2 linked regions of the Homo sapiens genome follow. The protein of the gene in region 1 purifies or fractionates together with the protein of each later gene. This does not show direct contact. Each region holds a gene or a part of one and is shown in the gene's direction. Other genes may lie near its edges.

The links.
Region 2: the proteins of NAAA (region 1) and ERF purify together in Homo sapiens (affinity purification with mass spectrometry; 3 studies listed by BioGRID and IntAct, with this or other methods). This does not show direct contact.

What each region holds. Positions count from the first base shown.
Region 1 is NC_000004.12:75,912,892-75,917,136, reverse strand, and holds the end of NAAA (N-acylethanolamine-hydrolyzing acid amidase isoform 1 precursor), read left to right. Parts: exon of another isoform or gene 1-22; coding exon of another isoform or gene 23-35; exon of another isoform or gene 36-587; coding exon of another isoform or gene 588-633; exon of another isoform or gene 634-699; intron 700-2,151; coding exon 2,152-2,233; 3' UTR 2,234-2,269; intron 2,270-2,798; coding exon of another isoform or gene 2,799-2,810; 3' UTR 2,811-3,477; downstream 3,478-4,245.
Region 2 is NC_000019.10:42,247,015-42,249,935, reverse strand, and holds the end of ERF (ETS domain-containing transcription factor ERF), read left to right. Parts: coding exon 1-109; intron 110-197; coding exon 198-1,471; 3' UTR 1,472-2,367; downstream 2,368-2,921. UniProt on the Homo sapiens protein: Potent transcriptional repressor that binds to the H1 element of the Ets2 promoter. May regulate other genes involved in cellular proliferation.

The sequences.
Region 1 (4,245 bases):
AACTACTTTTGTGTTCTTATAGTTTTTTTAGGTAATTATAGAAGTGATGAATATATCTGGCTGGGCGCAGTGGCTCACATCTGTAATCCTAGTACTTTGGAAGCCGAGGCGGGTGGATCACTTGAGGTCAGGAGTTCGAGACCAGCCTGGCCAACATGGTGAAACCTCATCTCTACTAAAAATACAAAAATTAGCCAGGCGTCATGGTGCGTGCCTGTAATCCCAGCTACTTGGGAGGTGGAGGCAGGAAAATCACTCGAATCCGGGAGACAGAGGTTGCAGTGAGCTGAGATTGCACTCCAGCCTGGGCGACAGAGGGAGACTCCGTCTTAAAAAAAAAAAAAAAAAAAAAAAAAAAGAAGTGATGAATATATCTTTTAAAAATTAGTATTATAATAAAATAGTTACATTTATTTTAATAAAACAAAGCATTTTCTCTGCTTTGAACAGCCCTCATAATTTTACATGGTGGCAGTGGCCAGTTGGCTGTATTATAATTGAGTTAAGCATTCTCCAGTTGTTAGATTTTCCTCTATTAAAACTCTGAAATAAACATATTCGTTTGCCTCTCCCCTGCTTACTTTCAGATTATTTCCCTTGGCTGAATTCCCAGAAGTAGGATTACTGAGTTAACAGTTATGAATGTTTAAATGGTTTCTGAAATGGTTTGGTCAAAATAAAATTGTTAGAAATTATAAACAGTTTACCAAGTAGTGTTTTTCTCTGTTGTATACTTGAAAATTCAAGAGAAACTGCTTTTAAGTGACAATCACCATGGAGCCAGAATTAACACAGACTTCTGACTCTCAGGCCCTTTACATGTAATGATTAACCTCAACTGAGGCTGTTCAGTTGTATTAGGTTAATAGAAATAAGTGTAGCTGTATCTGAAAAAAAGAAAAAGAAACAACAAAAAAGTAGTCTGAACAAAGGCAGTTAGCTCTATGCTGCCCCTTTGTGCCATGCTGCAAAATTACACCCACCTGCAATACATCTCCATCCTCTGCTGTGGCTCATCAGTAGAGAAAATACTAAAACAGTAATGGAGAGCAGAACTATGACTAAAGTAAACGAGCAATTAAGGTCCTGTTCAGGGAACCTCCATTACCCTTGGACGAGCTCTGCACTTGCTTACAGTGCTGTCTTTAACTGGGTGTATGATTTAGCTGTGGACCCAGTGCTACTAATTCTGCCTGTTTCTGAACAACCCAGCTCCGATATTTTGCACATGCACCTCAACTGGATTCCAAGACAAATGTGTGTACATGTGGGCACATGTGCTCAAGTTGTTTAGGTCTCTTGTTATACGGAATGTGTAATCAATGACACTATACTTTTCATCCTTAGATCTGGGCAAGGTGGAGGGGCGGGGCAGGTGCCTTGATCCTGGAGCTTTAGAGGCCCTCCTCTGGAATTCCTCTAGTTGTGATACCACCCCCCCAAAGCATGGTGTAAGGAATCTGCTGGACCAAGGGCATTTGCCCACCTGGAGTCTGCCCAAGTACCCAGGACCCTGTAATTCTCAGCCTGAACAGCCCCACCTCCACTTCCAGGGTTTGTGTTTTCCTCTTCCCTGGGTGATATTCTCCTGATGGTGGTGCATGGCCACTGAGAGAGAGCACAGGGGCAGGTGCTTGCTGGGGAATGTGAAGGCGGTGATGTCACATGTGTGCAAGTAAGGCCCTTGTGGGTAGGACAGAGCCAGGGTGAGGGCCAAGGCTTGGTCTCCCCCACTGCCTTGGGGTAGAGCTCTGAGGAGTCTTGAGATTTTATTTATTTATTTTTTATGAGACAGAGTCTCACTCTGTTGCCCAGGCTGGAGTGCAGTGGCGCAATCTCAGCTCAGTGCAACCTCTGCCTCCCAAGTTTAAGCAATTCTCCTGCCTCAGCCTCCCTAGTAGCTGGGATTTCAGGCACCACCACACCCAGCTAATTAAGTCTGAGAATTTTAAGTTCCAACTTGGCCTTCCACAGTGTTGTCAAAATAGGAGGAAAGTGCACTTTGACCTCTTGATTCATAGATTTAAAATATTCTGGCATAAAGGGCCTTGTCCCAGATCTCAAGTGTTAGGGAAGCACTTGGTCATTTTCTTCCCTTTCTGGCATATTAGAGAAAATGATGTGTACATAAAATTTCCTCATAATTTTCAGCTTCACAATTTATACTACGGTAATGAGCGCCGGTAGCCCAGACAAGTACATGACTAGGATCAGAAACCCGAGTAGAAAGTAAGTCAGCAGAAGAGCGAGTTCGCCCGTGCTGTGAAAGGTTTGTTGTTACTGTTTTGTGGAGAGGGGGTGAGGTGGGTGTGTGCTGGTATTTCTTACAGAGGGTGGTAACATCCTTAAAATGTATACATATATAATATTTTCTGACAAGCATCTGGCATTGTCATTTGTGTCAGATTGTCATCATTAGATATTTTATTTGGAATTGTTTGTATGAAAACCAATCTTCGGCGGGGCGTGATGGCTCATGACTGTAATTTCAGCACTTTGAGAGGCAGAGGCAGGCAGATCACTTGAGGTCAGGAGTTCAAGACCAGCCTGGCCAACATGGTGAAACCCCATCTCTACTAAAACTACAAAAAAACTGTTAGCCAGGTGTGGTGGTGGGTACCCAAAATCCCGACTACTCAGGAGCTGAGGTAGGAGAATCACTTGAACTCGGGAGGTGGAGTTTGTAGTGAGCTGAGATCACACCACTGCACTCCAGCCTGGGAAACAGAGTGAGACTCCATTAAAAAAAAAAAAAAAATCAGTCTTTGAATTAAATGCGTTTTTTTCTTCCCTTACAGATGATTTTTTAAAAAATGAAATTCTTGAAGAGCTGCACCTTAAAAAATAAGACAAAGTGAAAGTATTGTATTATGTTACAAACAATGCAGGCTCCTTCCTCATTTAACTTTACAACCTTGCGAAGTGGGTCCAGGAGATTTGGAGTTTGTGGTAAAGCCAGTAATGGGCATTGTCCTGCATTCCCTTCCCTTCATGGTTTGCCTCGATCCTCTCTAAGCTTCTATCCTGGCCTGAATAACTCAAAGATAATTGGTCTCAGAGATCAAGCCATATCCTCAGGCCTTATTTCCATCTTCTCATGATTCTGCCATCATACCTTTGCTTCTCCGCTAATGAAATGAGCTGGCAAGACCTCTGTTCATTGTGAAGTGCTTCTGAAAGAGCCTAAGAAAAAAGGCTCATCTGAAAGAAATGGAGAACTCTATTTCGAACCAAGCCTGTTTGAATGTGTGTTAGTCTGATCTTTGATCATGTGTTTCCATGTAATGGGAGTCTCGTTTTTTATAATGTTTCTAACGTTTTATTGAAAAACCTATGGCCCTCCTTCTTTCTCAATAGCTACTTTCTTACTGCTTTTTGAAAATAATATGCAACCAAATTATTTCTTAATGTCACATAATTAAGTAATAAAATGTCAAAAGAAATGTTGGCAAGGAGAATAAAAAAATTTCCAAGAAACTTAGCGTTATGCTCTCCCTGCTTTCTTTACCTCCGAAGTCTTATGGTTCTGAACTGCTGTCCTGAGAAAGCAACTCTCTTAGTTGTGATGTTATTTAAGTGTCAGCATTCAAGGGAATGAACAGCTGCTTGGTAGAGTTTGATTTTTCACATGTGCATGAAAGAAATGTCCTTGAGGATGAAGTCAGAAAAGGTTAAAAGTGTAAACGAAAATGTGCCTGAAGCAGCACTCAGTCCATGAGAGAGTTATTTTGCCAAGGCTAAGGATGTGCCCGGGAAAAAGAAACACCAGTCACAGGAGGACCTGTCCTGTGCTTTTCCCAAAGAGGGTTTGAGGAACTTCGGTATTTAAAGGGGAAAGAGCAAGCAGGAGCGGGGGATAAAAAGAGGGTAGACAGTGAGGCAAATGGTTACATTCTTGTGAGCTCTTATTATTGGTGCTCAGTGAATCTACATTTAGCACATGAAAACAAGGGAATGGAGGGAAAGTCAATGATGCATTTATCTCGTGCTCAGTAAATCTACATTTTACATAAGATAAAGCAACCGTGTGAAATTACAGCTATGTTTGGGAACAAAAGGAAGGCAGTTTTGGAGTGTCTCGGTTCCCAGGCTTAACTTTTCCTTTGGCATAGTGAGTAGAATGTCTAGAAGGAAGTGTTATCCAGGTACAGAACATCGCTCCCCTGACATACTGCAGACGTCTCTAGTGGCCCAGAATATTCGTGTTTCTTCTTGGACAGTGTCGTATAAATACCGTTTAATTTT
Region 2 (2,921 bases), on another chromosome or scaffold:
TATAACAAGCGCATTCTGCACAAGACCAAGGGGAAACGGTTCACCTACAAGTTCAATTTCAACAAACTGGTGCTGGTCAATTACCCATTCATTGATGTGGGGTTGGCTGGTGAGTACCAGGGATGGTTGGTGTGGAGAGGGTCTACATGCCCCTTCAGGCTAGGCCAGGGGCCTTGACACTGTCTCCCTTCTGCCAGGGGGTGCAGTGCCCCAGAGTGCCCCGCCAGTGCCGTCGGGTGGTAGCCACTTCCGCTTCCCTCCCTCAACGCCCTCCGAGGTGCTGTCCCCCACCGAGGACCCCCGCTCACCACCAGCCTGCTCTTCATCTTCATCTTCCCTCTTCTCGGCTGTGGTGGCCCGCCGCCTGGGCCGAGGCTCAGTCAGTGACTGTAGTGATGGCACGTCAGAGCTGGAGGAACCGCTGGGAGAGGATCCCCGCGCCCGACCACCCGGCCCTCCGGATCTGGGTGCCTTCCGAGGGCCCCCGCTGGCCCGCCTGCCCCATGACCCTGGTGTCTTCCGAGTCTATCCCCGGCCTCGGGGTGGCCCTGAACCCCTCAGCCCCTTCCCTGTGTCGCCTCTGGCCGGTCCTGGATCCCTGCTGCCCCCTCAGCTCTCCCCGGCTCTGCCCATGACGCCCACCCACCTGGCCTACACTCCCTCGCCCACGCTGAGCCCGATGTACCCCAGTGGTGGCGGGGGGCCCAGCGGCTCAGGGGGAGGCTCCCACTTCTCCTTCAGCCCTGAGGACATGAAACGGTACCTGCAGGCCCACACCCAAAGCGTCTACAACTACCACCTCAGCCCCCGCGCCTTCCTGCACTACCCTGGGCTGGTGGTGCCCCAGCCCCAGCGCCCTGACAAGTGCCCGCTGCCGCCCATGGCACCCGAGACCCCACCGGTCCCCTCCTCGGCCTCGTCATCCTCTTCTTCTTCTTCCTCCCCATTCAAGTTTAAGCTCCAGCCGCCCCCACTCGGACGCCGGCAGCGGGCAGCTGGGGAGAAGGCCGTAGCCGGTGCTGACAAGAGCGGTGGCAGTGCAGGCGGGCTGGCTGAGGGGGCAGGGGCGCTAGCCCCACCGCCCCCGCCACCACAGATCAAGGTGGAGCCCATCTCGGAAGGCGAGTCGGAGGAGGTAGAGGTGACTGACATCAGTGATGAGGATGAGGAAGACGGGGAGGTGTTCAAGACGCCCCGTGCCCCACCTGCACCCCCTAAGCCTGAGCCCGGCGAGGCACCCGGGGCATCCCAGTGCATGCCCCTCAAGCTACGCTTTAAGCGGCGCTGGAGTGAAGACTGTCGCCTCGAAGGGGGTGGGGGCCCCGCTGGGGGCTTTGAGGATGAGGGTGAGGACAAGAAGGTGCGTGGGGAGGGGCCTGGGGAGGCTGGGGGGCCCCTCACCCCAAGGCGGGTGAGCTCTGACCTCCAGCATGCCACGGCCCAGCTCTCCCTGGAGCACCGAGACTCCTGAGGGCTGTGGGCAGGGGACCTGTGTGCCCCGCACCCCCCATGCTTCTTTTGCTGCCTTAAGCCCCCTATGCCCTGGAGGTGAGGGCAGCTCTCTTGTCTCTTCCCTGCCTCCTCCCTTTTCCCTCCCCACATTTTGTATAAAACTTTAATTTCTTTTTTTTAAAAATGGTGGGGGTGGGTGGGTGCCCAGGGCTAGGGGCTATTCCCTGTCTCTGTGGGTTTCTAAGCTCTGGGCAAAGTGGTGGTAGGGGGAGGGAGGGGGAAGTTAAGGGGGTCACCTCCATTCTGGGGAATTTATATTTGAATTGAGGCTTTGGCCTTAACACCCAGGAACTTTTCTATTACAATCGCTTAGGAAGTAAAGCCTTGTCTCCCTCCCTGTTCTCTGCCTCTTGTACCCCTCTGACCCACCCGCTCTGCCCCACTCCCAGCCCTCCTCAGCCCCAGCCCTGCCTGCCCTGCCCCTCCAGGGGGCCATGAGTGCCTAGGTTTCTCATACCCCACAAGGTCACAGCAGGGGAGGGAGGGACAATTTTATAATGAACCAAAAATTCCATGTGTTGGGGGGTGGGGGGCGGAGGAGGGTGAGGGGTGCCGCCCATGGGCCACAAATCTCTACAAGTGCCTGCTATCCCTCTCCCACTCCCCACCCCAGCACCGGTCCAACCCCTTCATCCCCAGCTGCTCCTAGGACTGGCCCATGGGCAGGCGGGTGGGGGGATGGGAAGGGGGTGCCCTGAAACCAAACTGGAAGCCCCCTCTGCCTCCCAGCTGGGGCCTCTGGGGTGGGGTGGGGGGCTGTGGTCAAGCCTTATTCTGTATTGGGGACTGAGGGTGGGGGGAGTAGAGGGGCCGCTGGAGAATGTATTCAAAACAATAAAACTTTGGACCTTTGGATGCAGTGATCAATGTCCTAGGTGCTCGGTGCAGCCCCCTGAGGGCCACAGCTTTTGCTTGATTCTGAAGGAGGGGCCCCACCCTGGCTGCTAGTGGGTCTGTGGCCAGATCAGTATAGAGGGCCTAACCCTAATCAGAATGGGCCAAATCCAGGCCTGGGAAACCGTCTCCTGACCTCAGAGGCACATGAGCCCCAGAGCTTGATGATAGTGGTCTCAGGCATGCGCCGGCTTCATCAGACTGCTCCTCTGTTCCATGGGGACCTTGTCCTTGAAAGCTCTTCCCACTGTTTTTCACCACAACCCCACTGCCCTTGCTCTTCTGATTGCCTGGATGCCTTCCCACTTGTGGCTAGGAATTCTTCCCACACCCCAGGTCCCCAGTGAAGACCAGGAGCTCCCTTTTGCACTGCCCCTCGCACCCTGCCCACACCCCTCTCTTGTTGCTCTGAGTTCAGCTGGGAGTCCTTTGGAGAACAGCCTGTGGTGTCTCTTGAAATGTAGACCTTGCAAGGTAACTTGGTGATCTTCAGGTCCAGGTATGGGAACACCCCC